Linked DNA regions of Homo sapiens: region 2 is linked to region 1. Evidence: fine-mapped expression QTL. Tissue or cell type: whole blood. Region 1 holds a variant in brackets; the other region holds the start of a gene. All regions are shown on one strand. Distances are from middle to middle.

Region 1 (8,260 bases):
GAGTGTGGGAAGGCGTTCAGTCAGAGTTCGAGCCTCTGCATCCACCAGAGAGTCCACACTGGAGAGAAACCCTATAGATGTTGTGGATGTGGGAAGGCCTTCAGTCAGAGTTCGAGCCTGTGCATCCACCAGAGAGTCCACACAGGAGAGAAACCTTTCAAATGTGATGAGTGCGGAAAGGCCTTCAGTCAGAGTACGAGCCTCTGCATCCACCAGAGAGTCCACACAAAGGAGAGAAACCATCTCAAAATATCAGTTATATAAAACGTTTTGCTAAGAGTTTAAAATCTTAAAACCCATAAGTGCCACTAGGAAGGAAACCCTGTATATACCTACATTGACCCAAGAAATATTTACGCAATCCCTAGCAGAACATTGTTTCTGAGGAGGCATATGTGAGATTGATTTGTTGGTTCATGCCAAGTGTGTTCCACAGGTTGACTTTGAATGTGGACCTCTGAGCATCCACGCAGGATGGCTCTCAGGTCCCAGTCACAGACGTCGCTTCCTGGGATTCCAGCACGATGCCTCCATAGTTGAAAGACTACACAAAAAGCCACAATCATTGCCCGGCCTCCTGAGTCACCTTCTATCTATACTTTGCTTAAAAGCTATCCCAGATACTCCCCCTTGAGGAGCTCATGCCCTTCCTTCCTCTTTATTCGAGCATACTGGCAATGCATTGGAAAACAGACAGCTCCCACTAAGATCACGTTCTGGTATTTCTGAGGTTAACACTTGATTTAGCCCCTACATATCTTTCCATATATCCTATTATTTCTGAATATATGTCCTCAAAATCCCCATAAATATCCATCCCTTCCTAGATGGCATTAACTTTCATTTTAGATTTTAGGTGACTCATAATTCCCATTCACTTAGCCTATCAGAAAAGTCATTGGCAGACATATATGTCCTTGAACCTTTTTTATTTGTGTGGATTCTGCTCATCACTGTCTCTGTTAGACTTATTTTGTAGTGGCTGCATCACATATTTTTCACTTGAATTTTTTTGGAAATAGCTGAATGTAAATAGCAGGGAGGAAGAAGCAAGCAAAGTGAGAGCTTTTCTTCATCCAGAATTGCCCTCTGGGCTCCTTTGGTAACAGATGGAGCTCCTTCCTAGCTAGGGAGACCTTATGAGAAGTGGATGGTAGGAGGAGTCACTAATGTTTCAATCTCTATTTCTGTAATCTTGGGCAATAATGCATAGGAGTTCTTGATACCCCTTCATTGATTACTGTGTATCAGTTCTTTGTTAGGCATGAACGTCTTTATTAATCCATCATTCTTTTCTTCATTCAACAAATATGTATTGAACACCTCCTATATGCCAGGCACTGTGCTAGGTGCTGGGAATACCACTGATGAGACAGACAAGGTCCCTACTCTTGTGGAGTTTACTTCTGGTGGAGGAGACAGATGATAAGTAAACAAATAAATAATGTAGTTTGAGATAGTGATTAAGTGCTATGAAGAAAATAAACTAGGGTGATGATTTTAGTGGTGGGGTGGGGTGGGGGTGGGGTGACATTAGCTAGTGGTCAGGGAGGCCTTTCCGCGGTGGGATGTTGAGCTGAGGCCGGAGGAGAAGTAGCAGTCGCTGGCAGAGCACACAGGCTGCTCTGGGGGATGAGCTGGTGCGTTTAAGGAACAGGCCAGCACTGGCATTCGCAAGCAGTGGGGAAGGGGAGAGATGCCGAGGTGGTCAGTATCCTGACTTTCAGAGGCCTTTTTTTGTTTGTTTTAATTTTTGCTAGATTGATATTAAAAACTCATGTGGAGGAACTCAAGGAATGTTTAGAAGACCAAAAGTCCCCAATGACAGGAACAAAAGCAACCAATTTTTAACTTTCTCTTCTCATTCCTGTTTTCATTGATTTCCCACATGTAGTCCTTTTGCTCAGGAAGTCTTTGGGGAAATTAAGGATCTTTGAAGCTCTGAAATAGGTGATCAGGTTAGTGGTGTCTGTCAGCTGTCTAAGAGGTTGGAAAATGAACTACTCAAGATAGTCACGAAAATACTGAAAGTTTGATTTTTCTTTCCATATTTGAATTAATTTTTTCTGTTTGACTGGAAGGGGTTTTTGTATAACTAAAACCTCAGCGCATAAAGGAGATTTAAAAGGAGCACATGATTTAGTGGGTGGGCCATGAAACTAGAGATGGGATTTGGGGGTGAATTTGTCAATATCTGGATTTTAATCCAGACATCTCTGCTAACAAGCCTTTGGTAAGTCACTTCAGATACTTTTCCTCCTTTTTACAAAGAGAGGGCTGGCTTAGTTATTTGCCAAAGCCCCTTCCAGGCCTGAATTCCACAAGTACGATTTACTGTAGTGTCTTATCACTCTTTCATGTCACAATAGCGTGGAGCATTAGAGAAAAGCCTAGACTTTTAGTTGATAGCCAGTTGAAATATCATTGATAGAATTTTAGTTTTAGGAAAAATTGGTTTGATTTCTAGCTTTATTACTATTAGGTATGTGAGCTTGGGCAAATCGCTTAATCTTTGAGTCTAGTTTTCTCTCAAAATGAGAACATTAGGCTAAATGATTTCCGAGTTTCCAGCTAGTCCTAGAGTTCTATATTTCTACATAGTTGAATTATTTTATCATGCTGTTGCTGGGGAATATGACTAACCCTTTTGAAGCTACTAATTTTATGTCGAGCTTTAAAGTCCATAATTGTTATCTTCAGAAAATATTATTTGACCTACAGTATGTCCAAATCAATTTAATAAAATCGCTTTATAACAGGGTTCTGTGCTTGACATGTAGTTGTGTGAATTCAGTGGTCGTGTGTGGGAGTATGGGTATGGGTGTGTGGTGGAGAATTGGCTTGCACATTAAGCCCAGGGTGACCATGTAATTTATTGTCCAAACTGAGCACTTGAGAGTGAAGGGAGGGGGTGCTGTTGATACTCACATCTGGACAACAAGCCTCGAATGGGCCTTTCTCGGGCACACTAAGGTGTGAGGACACCTTGGTCTGAGGTCACAGCCACACAGGTAATAAATGACTCAAGTCAGGAATAATCCATCTGGAGAGAGCACAGTCCACTGAGAGGACTGCCTCAGCTCGGCTGTGGCTCTGTGTTCACGGCGAATACAGGCCCACAGCTCTTCTAAGAAAACACCAACCTCGATTTTCACACACAGTTTAATCTTAAAATGTTGGCAGCTAATTCCTTTTCCTTGGGTGATCCATTTTGGTGCTTTCTGTGATCTTCCTGGTGCCCCTTGGCAGTTCCTCCAAGCCCTGCCCTGGCCCCTGCTGACTGCAGCCCATGCCTGGGAAGGCGTGAAGTGCTGTCAGCTGAAGCAGAGGGGGCCCACGTTCTGTGCCGCAGTCAACAGTCTGACTGGCTGTGGCGTCTACCAGCTTTGAGAGACAAGTCTGCATTGCAATTCCACCATTGGGATGGGAGCAACCCAAACTAGCCCTTCTGATGGGGGTGGGGGGTGGGGGCAAGGGTAGGTCATCTGTGATGGGATTCACTCTTGGTGAATCTGCTAGGATTTAGAGTGTGAGCCAAGATAAGTCCAGAATGACTGCATGGTTTCTAACTTGGAAGCATGAATAAACGGCAGATTGCCTCTTGCAGATAGGAAGAACTCTTTGCATCAGAGTCCAACATTGAGATAGTCTACTGCGTGAGAATGTGGGCACAGCTCGTCAGGCCATCTCAGAAATTGAAGAGGGATTACTTTGTGTTGTGTGAGCATGGACATGATTCCTTCCAAGGGACCTTCTAGCTCTTGGCTCTGTTCTTAAAATTTTTGAATTATTTCTCAGTCTTTGTAATGTACTGATATTCTCAGAAATTTGAAAAACTAGGTGAATGGAAAGCAAATATCAGAAGCAGATGGAAAATATACTCAGTGGTAAAATCTAGGAAAAGATGAGAAAGGTTGATACTACTACAGGGCAAGAGCCATATATAAATAGCAAAGCTGAGTTAAGATCTATGGATTAGAGAGGAAGAGAGGAAAAATGAAGATGATAGAGCACTTCCTCTAACCATATTCATTTTCTTAATTTTTCTAAACCTCAAGTTTCTCATCTTTAAAATGGTTTTGAAAATATCTAATTCATGGAAATGTTGGGAGAAGTAAATAAACGTAAAGTGCCTAGCATTTAGTGCTATAACGAATTCCTATTCCCAGTTGCCTATTAAGGAAGAAAGGTCATGTTATTTGGATTCCTTTTTGTTTTGCTGAGCTCTGTGGTGGGTTTGGACATCTAAAATTGGGGTAGGACCTGGAGAGGGCTGAATTGCTCCACATGGTAAGAGAGAGAACTTGAATCTCCTGGGGTAGTTGGAGGTAAGAAAACAAAGGGTAGACTTGGAGTGGGAGAGAGGACCAGGGAACCAGTGGAGTAGGATGGTCTGAAGTTCTGAGCTCTTGTGTAGGAAAACTTCGTGACCACAAAGTCTTTCCCTAAAGTTAGGGGTGTTTGGCATGGTGGATTTCTTATGGAAACTGGTGGAAGGGCTGAGTGCTGTATCCAGGGTGAAATGGGGCAACACGTAAGTACCACACATAAATATAGGAGCCAGAAGAGGGTGCCCCTGAGAACAAGCTCCAAGGAATATGCAGAATATGCAGAAATCTTCAGGGTAGCTAAAAGCTGCTACAGGCCATGGAATTAATGGAGTTTTGAGTCAAGTTTACCCAAACCCCTAAGGGGCAGGGAGGCCTGGGATATCTTTATTTCCACTCTCAATGTACATGAAGTAGAATAACTTTATAATCATAAGTAAGTTGAAACTTAAGAATTTTTTTTATCATTCTCATTTTAACATATTACAAAACACATGAACAAATCCAGAGATCCCAAGGCTGTGTGTGTGTTTATGCCAGTAAGAACTTGTCATAAATATCGGTGGAAAATGACACTTTATACCAAAGCAATTTTATTGCTCAGATTTAGGCATATGTAAATAAACTGCATTTCTAGAGTAAAGTAGCACATACAGATTTTGTGTATTTTTAGGCGGATGTATGCATTTTATAGACTCTGTACCTTCCTAAATACTGTGTCTAAATATGGCTTCGCTGAGAGACCGACTTTCC[C/T]TCCCCCTCTTAATTCTTTGCTGGCCCTGATCCAGGTCTTCTCTGCATCATGAATTATGGTGGGGGTGTTGTATTTACAGAATTTTAAAACCTAAGACCTGCAGACGGCTTTTGGGGAGGTCTAGAACCTTTTTAAGTTATGTGCAGAATTTTGTGTACCTGTAGGTCTATGCATTTTTCTAGGAAAGGGGGCTTTCCTTATGTTTGTGACTCTAAGAGATAAAGAACACTGGCTGGCATATGGTTACTCGTTGTTTGGGGATCTTGGGAGGCAAAAGGGGTGCCTAAGAGTTCCAGTTAGTGGAATGGATAGGAAATGATGGGTATAATAAACGGAGGAAAAAACACAACGCTGTGTTGTGAGGAAAGAGGGAAAAGGACGTTGGCATAAAATGGAAGGATACATGTGCATGTGTTGTTATGCTGGGCCCAGGAGGTAGGCTGTGTGGCAGTTTCGATGTCATACGCTTAAGACAACAGTTCTGCGAACAGTGTATTAAAAGAATATAGGTGAGGACAATTGAGTATTCAGAGGGGACTGGCTGGACGTGGACGGAATTGGCTACCTGAATGGAAAACACTAGATCTCAACTGAATCTGTCTTGGTTACAGAGGAGGCAGTTCTTGCTGTAAAATGGGTGAGGGCCCCAGTACTGGTGTGGGTTGTATTTAGGTTCTCAAATAGACCTATTCATATTGCTCAATGCCATGTTCTCTCATGTCTAATTTTTATGTCCTACCTCACTTGCCTGGGATCTCTGACTGTTTAAGTCAGTCCTCTTTAGTCTTCATCCTGTCTGTCCCCAAAATGTCTTTTTTTTTTTTTTTTTTTTTTACCCCTGATACTCTTCCATCCTTGTGTGCCCCCCGCTCCCCTTTCTGAGATAAGGTCAAGACCCACAGGGACTTAGTCTCAAGGGTAAGTCCTGTTTCTACAGTCTGTGGAGGATGACGGGAGAGTCTGGTAGAGCAGCAAGCCCTACTTCCTGGAGCTGTTGTTGCCACATTGTTATAGTTGAAACAGGCAGTGTCTGGAAAGAACTGAATCCTCTGTGTTTTGCTTGCCTCACTTGATCCAGTAAACATTAGGAGAAGAAATTAAAAAAACAGGAAAGGATAAGATGGCAGGAGTAAGTTGAAGCATATTGTTAATCATAGTAAATGTGAACTGGTTAAATTCAGCTACTTAGGGACATTTTCAAGTTGATTTGTAAATGACGTCACAAACGTGTATATGATGGTTATGGGAGACCACCTAAAATAAAGGGGTGACCCAAAAGGCTGACAGTGAAGGGGTTGAAAAAGATCAGGAAATGCTAAAAGAAAGCAACTGGTGGTAGTATTGTCAGTCCGTTTATGAAAGGAATAATTTGTCAAGAAGATAGTTATATACTTTCATTAGCTCACAACATAGCTTTGAAAGATAGAACATGGTAAGAAATTAAGCAATTCCCAGTCACAGCAAGATATGTTAACCCTCACCCATCAGAATTTGAAAATCAACTAGACAAAGAAGGATCTGGCTATTTAACTAACACTGTTACCAAACTTGATGTGTCCACTGTGTGTGAACTTTGTGCAGCAGATCCTCTTGGAATGGTCATAGAAATTAGCCATGCTTTGTGCCAGAAAGGAAATCTCACCAGATTCCAAAATGTAGAAATCTCACAGGTCATATTCTCTGACTATAATGTAATAAAAAATTGAAGTCACTGAGAAAGAGCCAAAAGTCCTGTCCATTTCATCCCAAGTTACAAATAAAGAGGAAATCAAGTGTAGTAGAGATGAGTGGCAGAGATGGCACTGTGGGGCACGTCTTGTGGATGGGGCCGAAATGAAAAACTTTCATAGCCTTCAATTCATTTATGAGATAAGGAATATGAAACTAAGCAGTCAAACAAGCTGGAAAAAATACTGCAGGATTTTTAAATTTTACCAAATGACTTTTGGGCCTTCACCAAGATCATCATATGCTCCTGTTCCTTTCATTTGTTAATGTACTGAGTCATTTTGAAATATAAGGATAACATCTTTTATGGTCATAAAGTATTACATCCTTCCACCTTTGGTGGATTTTTGAAAATTTGCATGTGTGTAACCTTAAGAGAGAGTCTTTAGTTATGAATTGATTTAATCAGGGATTTAAAAGCTTTCTATCCTCCTTATTCTGGAATAAATTAAATAGCACAGGTTAATAACTGTGCCCCTGGACTGTATGGGCAGTATTCATACAAGAAAAAGTAATAAAATCTGTGTCCCACTTCACTTGCCTGGAGCATAAATTAAGGTAACATCTCATATTGTTTAAATCAACCATCTGATCCTTGAAAGTGATAGAACTCATCCAAAATGGCTCAGATCCTTGAGGGTGGAGCTTAGAAGCTTTGACAGTGTTTTTACTCTTTTCAAAACTAATAGGTCAATTTAGATCTTTCCCCCTTATTTTTGATAATTTATAGTTTTCTAGGAAAAAACCTCCCTTTTTTGGGGACCTTCAAATATATTTTAGAGATGTGTATAACTCTAAATTCTTAAATCTCATTGGCATTTTGATAAAATCTTACATCTCCCATCGTATGTTTATATTTTCCATTTTTTTCTTTATTGGACTTGCCACCCTCTCTACTTCCACTCCCCCGAAGAACCAGACATTGGCTTTGGTGATCACTTCTGCTGGGGTATTTTCCTGTCATATTTATTACTTTCTTTTATTATCACTAATCATATCCTCTTCCCTTCCTTAATTTAGCTTATTATCTTTTTTCTGAAACTTTTTTTTTTAGTTGCTAGAATCCCATGAATTAATCCCAATAGGCTTTATTTTCAGTGATCTAGTTCCGGGTCAGCAAACTATGGCCCTGGGCCAAATCTAGCTCATCTCCTGTTTTTGTATAGCCTCCAAGCTAAAAATGTGTATGTTTCTAAATGGTTTTTAACACATTGATATTTTCTGAATACGAAAACTTAATGAAATTCACATTGTGTCCATAAATACAGTTTTATGGGAACAAAACCATGTTGATCCATTCTTGGCTTGTCTGTGGCTGCTTTGATGCTGCAACAGCAGAATTGCAGAGTTGCAACAGAGATTGAATGGCCCCCAGAGCCTAAAATATTCTTTCTCTGGCTTTTTACCAAAAAAATTTCCCCATCTCTGGTCTAAGTCACTTGTACCAACT
Region 2 (8,000 bases), 82 kb before region 1:
GCATGTCTTGGAGACTTTGAGGCTGTGGGCCCTGAGAAAGCACAGGTGGCTGGACAGTGCCACCTCCGTTGTTCTCTGTGATTGCAGAAGCCATCGAGGCCCTCCCGCTTGCCAACACGCCAGAAGTGTTTGGTCTCCACCCCAACGCTGAGATTGGCTATTACACGCAGGCGGCTCGAGACATGTGGGCTCACCTGCTGGAGCTGCAGCCTCAGACAGGTAAACTCTACTCAGGAGGACTTCATTAGTTTGATTGGGGTTTTACGATTGCTTCTTGTAGCCCTCCCACGTTGCTGATGCCTTTCCCAGAACTGGAAGGCTCAGGAGGCTCCGGTTCTGCACGTGGATGCCTTGCTTTCTCTGAAAAGTGTCCTGGTTTTAGGGGAATCCAGCAGTGGTATCAGCCGCGATGATTATATTGGCCAAGTGGCCAAAGAAATAGAAAACAAGATGCCCAAAGTCTTTGACTTGGACCAGGTGAGGAAGCGCCTCGGAACAGGACTCTCCCCCACTTCGGTGGTGCTCCTGCAGGAACTGGAACGCTTCAACAAGCTTGTGGTCCGGATGACGAAGTCTCTGGCTGAACTTCAAAGGGTGAGCCTGTCTCTCATGTGCAGATTACTGCCTAGATACGTGGCACCTGGGGTTCTGATAGAGTCCTGCCCGATTGCTCTTGATTCTAAATAGGCCTTGGCTGGAGAAGTTGGAATGAGCAATGAGTTAGATGATGTGGCCAGGTCTCTTTTTATCGGGCATATCCCTAATATCTGGAGAAGGCTTGCTCCTGACACCTTAAAGTCCCTTGGAAACTGGATGGTCTACTTCCTGCGGCGGTTCAGCCAGTACATGTTGTGGGTAAGTGGCACGTCACCGCCTCCTCTCTGCCGATTCAGGTGTCAGCCTAGACTCCTCAAACCACCTCCCAATCCCCTCTTTCCATTGCCCAGCAGTAACCTCTGTTAAAGTTTATTGGGTGCTCTGGAAATGGTCTGAGATTCTTACAAGCCTATCTGTATCTTTTGTTTTTCCTTTTCTTTTGAAGACTTTGAAGCATACTCTTACATACCCGATTATTTTATCTAAGTGTATATCTTGGCACTTGTTCCATATTAGTACACAGCTAGCTCGTTCTTTTTTAGAGTATGCCATTGTACAAATGTTTCATATCCTTTCTCCTCCTTCTGTATCCTAAAAATATGGTAACTGCCTACATTTCGGTGGTTACCATTTTTTTTTTTTTTTTGCTAATACAAATAACATTCTGGTGCACATGTATATGAATATGCATAGGGGTATATTCCATGGGTAAATTCTGACAGTGGAAGAGTTGGATCAAAGAGCTTGTGCATTTTAAATTTTGATAGCTCTTGTTGGATGGTTCTTAGAAAGGCTGAAACCACAGTCTATGAGAGTGCTTCTTTCCTCACTCCGCTGCAATGCTGCGTTCTTAACATTTTGGATCACTGTCTCCCTGATAGGTGAAAATAATATCTCATTGTTTTGCATGTCTTTAATTATGGTGAGTCTGAGCGTATTTTGCATGCTTTACAGACATTTTGTGTTTGTTTTTCTGTGAATTGTCCTTTTGTATCTGGATTTCATTTTTAGTGAGGTCTCCATCTTTCTCATTGATGTTTAAGAGCTCTTTGCAAATCAAAGAAATTAGCCCTTGGTCTGCCAGTGTTGCAGGTATTTCTCCAAGCTTGTCATAAGTCTTGACTTTGCTTACGGTATTTTTTCCACAGAAAAGCTTTACATTTTTCCGTAGTCAAACCTACAAGGCTTTTCTTTTTTATCCTGGGCTTTGTATTTCCTACTCCACGATATGAAAGCATTCATTGGAGATGTGGCCCAGTACTTTTGTGGTTTTATTTATTTTTATATCTAAATCTTTGATCTACCTGGAATGTGGCAGTCCAGATTGTTTTTCTCAGACAGGCGGCCAGTTGTGCCAACGCCATCTTTTGCCACTTAGGTGAAATATGTCTTTTATCATAAACTAAACTTCCAGGCCAGCTTTGACCTGGCATTGGATGGCAGCCCCAGGCTCCCAGCACTTGTCCTCTCTTCTCTCCAGGTGACCGAGAGCGAGCCCAGCGTGATGTGGCTCTCGGGGCTGCACATCCCTGAGTCCTACCTCACGGCGCTGGTGCAGGCCACCTGCCGGAAGAACGGCTGGCCACTGGACCGCTCCACCTTGTTCACACAAGTGACCAAGTTCCAGGATGCAGATGAAGTGAATGAGCGGGCGGGACAAGGTACCGTCAGCTCGTTAGGGATCCACAGCCTCTCACTTAGGATTTCTCTCCCTGAACCACCTCCAACTCAAAGGGACAGGCATAGCGTGGGCCTAAATGGGCCAGGCCATGTTTGAAAGCCAGCCTGCTGCAAATATTTCCTGTGTCTCTGCACTGCCCATGTCTTAACACCTCTGAGGGTGGATACGGAAGTTTCTCTTCCACTTTCTCCGTTGAGACCTGGGGTCTATGGCAGGGGAGACCTGAACCATGTTCACTCTGCTAGCTCATGGCAAGTGGGCTCCTAGGTCAGAATTAGCTCTTGCAAAAACCATCAGGTGGCTTTCTTGTAACCCCTGACGGGGCCAGGGGCATGGGAGCCACAGAGCAGCATGGACTAACTTGGTTGGAACTCTTTGATTATGCCAGAACTTCAGGTCCCTTAGACATTGGTTACTGACTGTGCAAATGAGAGCTGGAAACTGCTGTTTCCCCGGGTCCATGTTGTCTTAGAGTTCTTTTAACTGCAAGGAACAAAAGCTCTTTTGAGATGGCTTAAGGACTGGGGACTTACGGTAAAGATGCAGGGACTCTCCAGGTCTCAGTGGCAGGGGAGGTGGCAGGTGTCCGGGCCACCACTCTCTCTGGGGCCACAGGAGTGTGTTCCTCTCTTTGCACATCTGCTGGGTCCTCCTCCCCGGAGACCACTTTCTCTGTGAGGCTTCGACTTCCTGCTCCCCAGCCACTTCGGCTCACAGGGTAGCTGGGGTTGCCATGGTGCCCATTCTGACTCTGGGACCATGCATCTTTCTAGCCTGGGGGCCCAGGGTGGTCTAAGTCCGTGGGCCTTGATGCCCCAGGAATGAGGATTCCTGGGGGAGAGGCCACCGCCCCACACCCATTTCTCTGGGCCATGGGGCAGGGCCACAGGGTCTCCTGTCTGGGCTGCTCCTCCACAGAGGGAAGGTGGGCAGGACAGAAATGCTGGAGAAGGGCCTGGGCTGTCCCCAATGCGCTGGGGAGGAGGCCAGCCAGTGGCCTGTGTGTCGCTGTGTGTGCGCCTGATAGAGCCACTCCGTGGCAGGCTGTGCATGCTCCAGTTGTATCCAGTCTCTGCCTTGTGTCCCTAGGATGCTTTGTCTCAGGACTGTACCTGGAAGGTGCTGACTGGGATATAGAAAAAGGATGTCTTATCAAGAGCAAACCCAAGGTGCTGGTTGTGGACCTGCCGATCCTGAAGATCATCCCCATTGAAGCCCATCGCCTCAAGCTGCAGGTGAAGGTCCCAGCCCCTCCTCTCTGACACCAGGGCCCTTCCTCTTCTGACTGTAGTTATGGCTGAGGTGGTTTCCAACAGTCCTACTTTTTAAAACAGGGGTGCCTAAGCTTTATGGGCTGGGGAGAGTCTTGGAGCCGTGATAAAAGCTACGGATAGCTGCTTCCTGGAAAAGGCGCGGCTGTATGTGTGTGTGGATGCCGGTCCTTCCAGAGGTGTCAGGCTCAAGCTGTGATCCTGTGGTCTAGACTAACCAAGGGGAGACTCCCTCCCTTCTTGCAAAATGCTGCAGACATTGCCTGAGTCATAAAGTGGTTCCCGCTGGTGTGGACAGCAGATGTCTTCTGCTCTGCCTGGGCCAGGACCCACTTTTAACCAGGGTGTCAGTGTGAAGCCAGGTCCCCGTGAAGCTGGCGGAGGGTGGCCCTGAGCAGCCCCAGCCTTGTGCGTGTTCTCAGGTGCAGTCTTGCACAGGGGCCCCTGCCTGTCAAGACTTACACTGCACCTCTGCCTTTATCCCTCTGCACCCTCTCTCCGTGGGGGCATCTCACCTGCCTTTCCCTTGCAGAATACTTTCCGGACCCCCGTCTACACCACCTCCATGAGAAGGAACGCCATGGGAGTCGGCTTGGTTTTTGAAGCTGATCTCTTTACCACGAGGCACATTTCTCACTGGGTGCTGCAAGGAGTATGCCTCACCCTGAATTCTGATTAACCTTTGGGTGAAGAAAACTGCTTAATGAATTCGGAGCCTGGGGTTGTCAGAGTGATCGGGTCTGCTGTCATTTCTTGGGGCCTCTCAAGAGGCAGGAGGGGGACTGACACTGATTTTTCATTTGAAATCAGCCACTTAAATCTCTTTCCATACAAATTAACCTGAATGGTTTTGTTTTTAATACTACTTTTTAAAAGGAATTTATATAATCAAAAAGTAAATATTGGAGAGTATTTTAAGATGTGTGGAGTTTTCTTTTCCTTCTCAGAGAAAACACTTGATTAGGCAAAAGTGCCTGGCATACATAGCATTGGCACAAGTGAGAATCCTAATGTAATTTCCAAAGGTGTGTTTTCGATGATCCAGGTCTGTTTCAGCAGATGCTCCTTTTTGGCAAGAAGGGCTGATGATGTCGGGCACAGAGCAGAAGTGACCAGTCACCTGGAGCCACTTCTCCCCCTTCCAGAACTCTCTGGCCCTAGCTTCTTTGGCTCTGACCTGCTACGGCGACTGTGAAGTTGTTGAGCTTAGTGTTTAGTTCCTGCATGAGCTTCTACCCCCAGCCTGCCTGGGTCTGTGTGGGGTCAGGTAAGGACACAGAACCTCCAGGACCAGTGGTCACTGGGCACCCCTTCCCTCTGTGCACCATGAGGCTGGCCTGGAGCCCTGGCTGGCCACCTGGAGGTGAGGGGTGGCTTCACTCCATGAGGGAGGAGAGGGGCTAGCACGGGCAGCACAGTGGGCAGGGGCCATCAGAGGCAAAAGCAGCTTCCCACAGAAGCTCAGGAGCGCAGCACATTCTAAGGACTAGCTCTGGGCCGGGAGGAGGCCGGAGTCGCTTCTGGGACCTGTGATTGCTCTCCCTCCTGCAGTCTCCTAGCCCTCCTTCAGGTGTTTGTTTAATAAAAGACACAAAACAGAAGGAAGGCAGGTTTAGAAAATAAAGTTTGTTGGGATCTTAAACATTTTGGATAAAACTAACAAAAAAATATGAACACACATTCAGGTTGTGGTGCTATGAGGAGTAGCGTCATCTTATTTAGTTCCTTGAGATACACGCACGGCTGCTCGGTGATCGGTGCCGCCCTGGGAAAGGTTGGTCAGGAGGTGACAGGGGTCTCCAGGAGGAGCTCGGGAGGTGACAAGGGTCTCCAGGAGGGAGCAGGGGCTGCTCGGCCAGGCTGCCCTGGAGCTTGAGGATAAGGTCAAGGTTGGTATGTGTTGCTCCGACTTGAGAATGAATTAGGTGTGTGACTGTGTGGCATCGTGAACATCAGTAGTGACGCAGCCGTGGCCTGGGCTTTGCCTGCAGCGCACTTAGGTTACACGGAGCGGGATCAGAAGCAAGCGATTCGGCACACAGGCGTTTGGCCACAGCAATTAGGAAATACATATTCTGCGGCAGGGACACGATCATATTTTGGTGTGAAGAAGAGGGCAAGAGAAGCAGAAGGAGAATGGGTCGGTAGGTGTGAAAAGTGTTTGGCATGCATGGGATTAAACAGAAAAGGTGTGGCTGAGATTTCCCAGTGGTGCTCACAGTGCATGGACAGCGCGGGGTGGGGCACGGCGGGCTTCACACAGTTCTGTCCGTCCCTGAGTGCTTCCTCACCACCTTGCCTCCGTTCACCTGGTCGACCGCCAGGGTCTTCACCTCGGGCTGGGCCTGCGGCGGGGTGGCGTGGTGGATCCGATGTGCCACCCCGACGTGGGCCTTGTGCGGCTTTTCGCGGGCCGGGCTGTGCTGCTCGCCGCTTCGGTCGGAGGCGATGGGGGGGATGACGAGGGGCCTCTCTTTGATGAGGTGGACCTCGGCGGACTCCCTAGCCAGCAGAAATGGGGTGGGGTCGGGCATAGCATCCACTGGTTCCCGCAAAAGGAGTTTCCTGCTCTCTGCCCCGAATCTGTAGACCTCTTCAAATTCCGGGTGCAAGGGGGCTGAGAGGCTCTTTTTCATGCGGCGGCGAGGCGTTTCGGGTAGCTTGTCTTTGGGGGGCGCTGGCTTGTAGCTGGCCAGCACGGGGCTCCCTGACGGGCTGGCATCTGAGGTCCCGCTGGAGCTCATGAGCTTCTTCTTGGCGGCGTGCAGCTGGGAGGTCAGGTAGGCGATGGTGCTGGCCCGCTGCTCCAGCTCGCTAGACAGCAGGGTCAGCTTGTGACTCTTGGCCTTCAGCTCCTCCAGGTACTTCTTCTCTCGCTCCTTGATGGTGTTCTCCAGCACTGTGATCATCGCGTTTTTCTGCTCCAGTTCTTTCAACAACTCAGCATTTTCGTTCTCTTTCACTTTCAGTTGGGCTTCCAGCTCTTCACATCTTTTCTTTAATTCACTGCTTTTAGAAGTCCCGTCTCCTACAAGAATAAGCCGAGGAAGCAGGTGAAGAACTCATTAGACTGAGGCCGAGTGGTGAGGCCTATGGGGCAGGCGGACCTGTCTGGTGGGGGCCCTGTCTAGGCTGTGGGGGCCATGCAGAAGGCAGGGCTGTGGGGGCTCTGGAAAGACCCCTCCCCTCCCCGAGGTGGGGAGATCGGGGCATCTCAGAGGCCCTTTCCGGCTCTTAGTTCTCTGGCCTACTGCATAAAAGAATGTCTCTGAACCTTAAAGATGCTGAACTTAAAACAGGCAATTGCAGAGTATCAGACCTCAGCAAACACTTAGGATTCAACTGGCCGCAAATCCCTCTGTCTGCTCAGATGGCATTTATGGAATGCCTGCTACATTCAAAGTACTGTTTTGAAACTCAAATGTAAAAAGAATTATCCATGTCTATTGAATTAAAATTCTGATGTTTAGAGGAGAAGAGGTGTGGGGCTGTCACCTTTGCTCTGCCGCTGGCCGCCTCTCTCACCCCCCTACCCCCGTCTCTCTCACACACACACACACACAGACTCTTTCCCACTTCCTGCTCAGAGAGTGAGCTGTCTCGCCTCTGTGGCTCTTACCCTTGGTCCCTCCCTGCCCCTGCCCTAACACTTCGGGCCTCTGCCTCCTTTTGCTGTCCCTGGGTGCCTGCCCTCACCCAGTCCTTCAGCAAACACCAGCCACCTCCTTCTCCTGCTCTTCTGGTGACCTGCAGTCCCTGGTCACCTCACATAGCACCCTTGGCTCTAAACCCTGGGTCACCATCCTACTCCTCCTAACGCTGGCTGGCTGGCCATCCTCCTTGCCTGGCCCCTGGGAAGTTCTTTCTAGACTCTTCCTTGCTGGTCTGGAATTCAACTTGAGCATCAGCTCCCGATTCAGTGTCTCCTGAGCACCACTTCTCCAAGTGAGTGTCCGTCAGACACACCCTCAAGTCCAGATAGCTGCTCTGCTTCCCACATCTTGACTCTCCCAGGGAAACTGGATGCAGTCGCCATCCCTGGCCTCCCCTCCCTGACTGTGCCTTTCTGCTGGCTGCTCAGTGCTGCCCCCTCCCTGCTCCTCCAGCCGGCCTTGGTCCCACCTCCTCTCTGGTCTTCGTTTCAGCCCATCCTGTATTTAGGAAGCTTGGTCACCCCCTAAATATTCTTGTCCTCTGTTCAAAATGGTTCCTCACTGCCTAATAAAACCCAAACTGCCAGATGCCTTCCAGTTCCTCAATCTGTCCTGAATGTTATCTGCTCCCACATAAATCAAAGCTTCCATCACTCTCCCCAAGCCACCACCTCTTGTTCTGTCTCTATTGTACCCTCTGTCCTTGCCCTAACTCCAGACCTGCACGCCCAGTTTCCCTGTACCAACTCCACCACCCAGGGCCTGCCTAGGCACTGGACGCCACTGGACGTCTTTCCC

The links. PIP is the estimated chance that this variant, and not a neighbour inherited with it, causes the effect.
Region 2: DNAH10OS starts here. The variant in region 1 is fine-mapped to the expression of DNAH10OS in whole blood (TOPMed, PIP 0.96).

Annotation. Positions count from the first base shown.
Region 1 is chr12:124,012,667-124,020,926 of GRCh38, forward strand. The region is part of intron 2 of ZNF664-RFLNA (ZNF664-RFLNA readthrough); the gene reads left to right. ZNF664 (zinc finger protein 664) reads left to right here. Exons shown (of 5, transcript NM_152437.3): 5 at 1-2,761. The coding sequence ends at 264. Among named protein-coding and RNA genes, the nearest start is that of ZNF664-RFLNA, 44 kb to the left of the region's middle. The variant C/T (reference allele first, on the strand shown) is at 5,082.
Region 2 is chr12:123,931,254-123,939,253 of GRCh38, forward strand. DNAH10OS (dynein axonemal heavy chain 10 opposite strand) reads right to left here and starts at 3,731. Exons shown (of 2, transcript NR_187476.1): 1 at 2,812-3,731. It overlaps DNAH10 (dynein axonemal heavy chain 10), which reads left to right. Exons shown (of 79, transcript NM_001372106.1): 74 at 88-219; 75 at 383-594; 76 at 688-855; 77 at 2,078-2,258; 78 at 3,368-3,513; 79 at 4,082-4,461. The coding sequence ends at 4,228. It overlaps CCDC92 (coiled-coil domain containing 92), which reads right to left. Exons shown (of 5, transcript NM_025140.3): 5 at 4,373-6,577. The coding sequence ends at 5,805. RefSeq lists enhancers at 6,796-7,296, 7,297-7,797.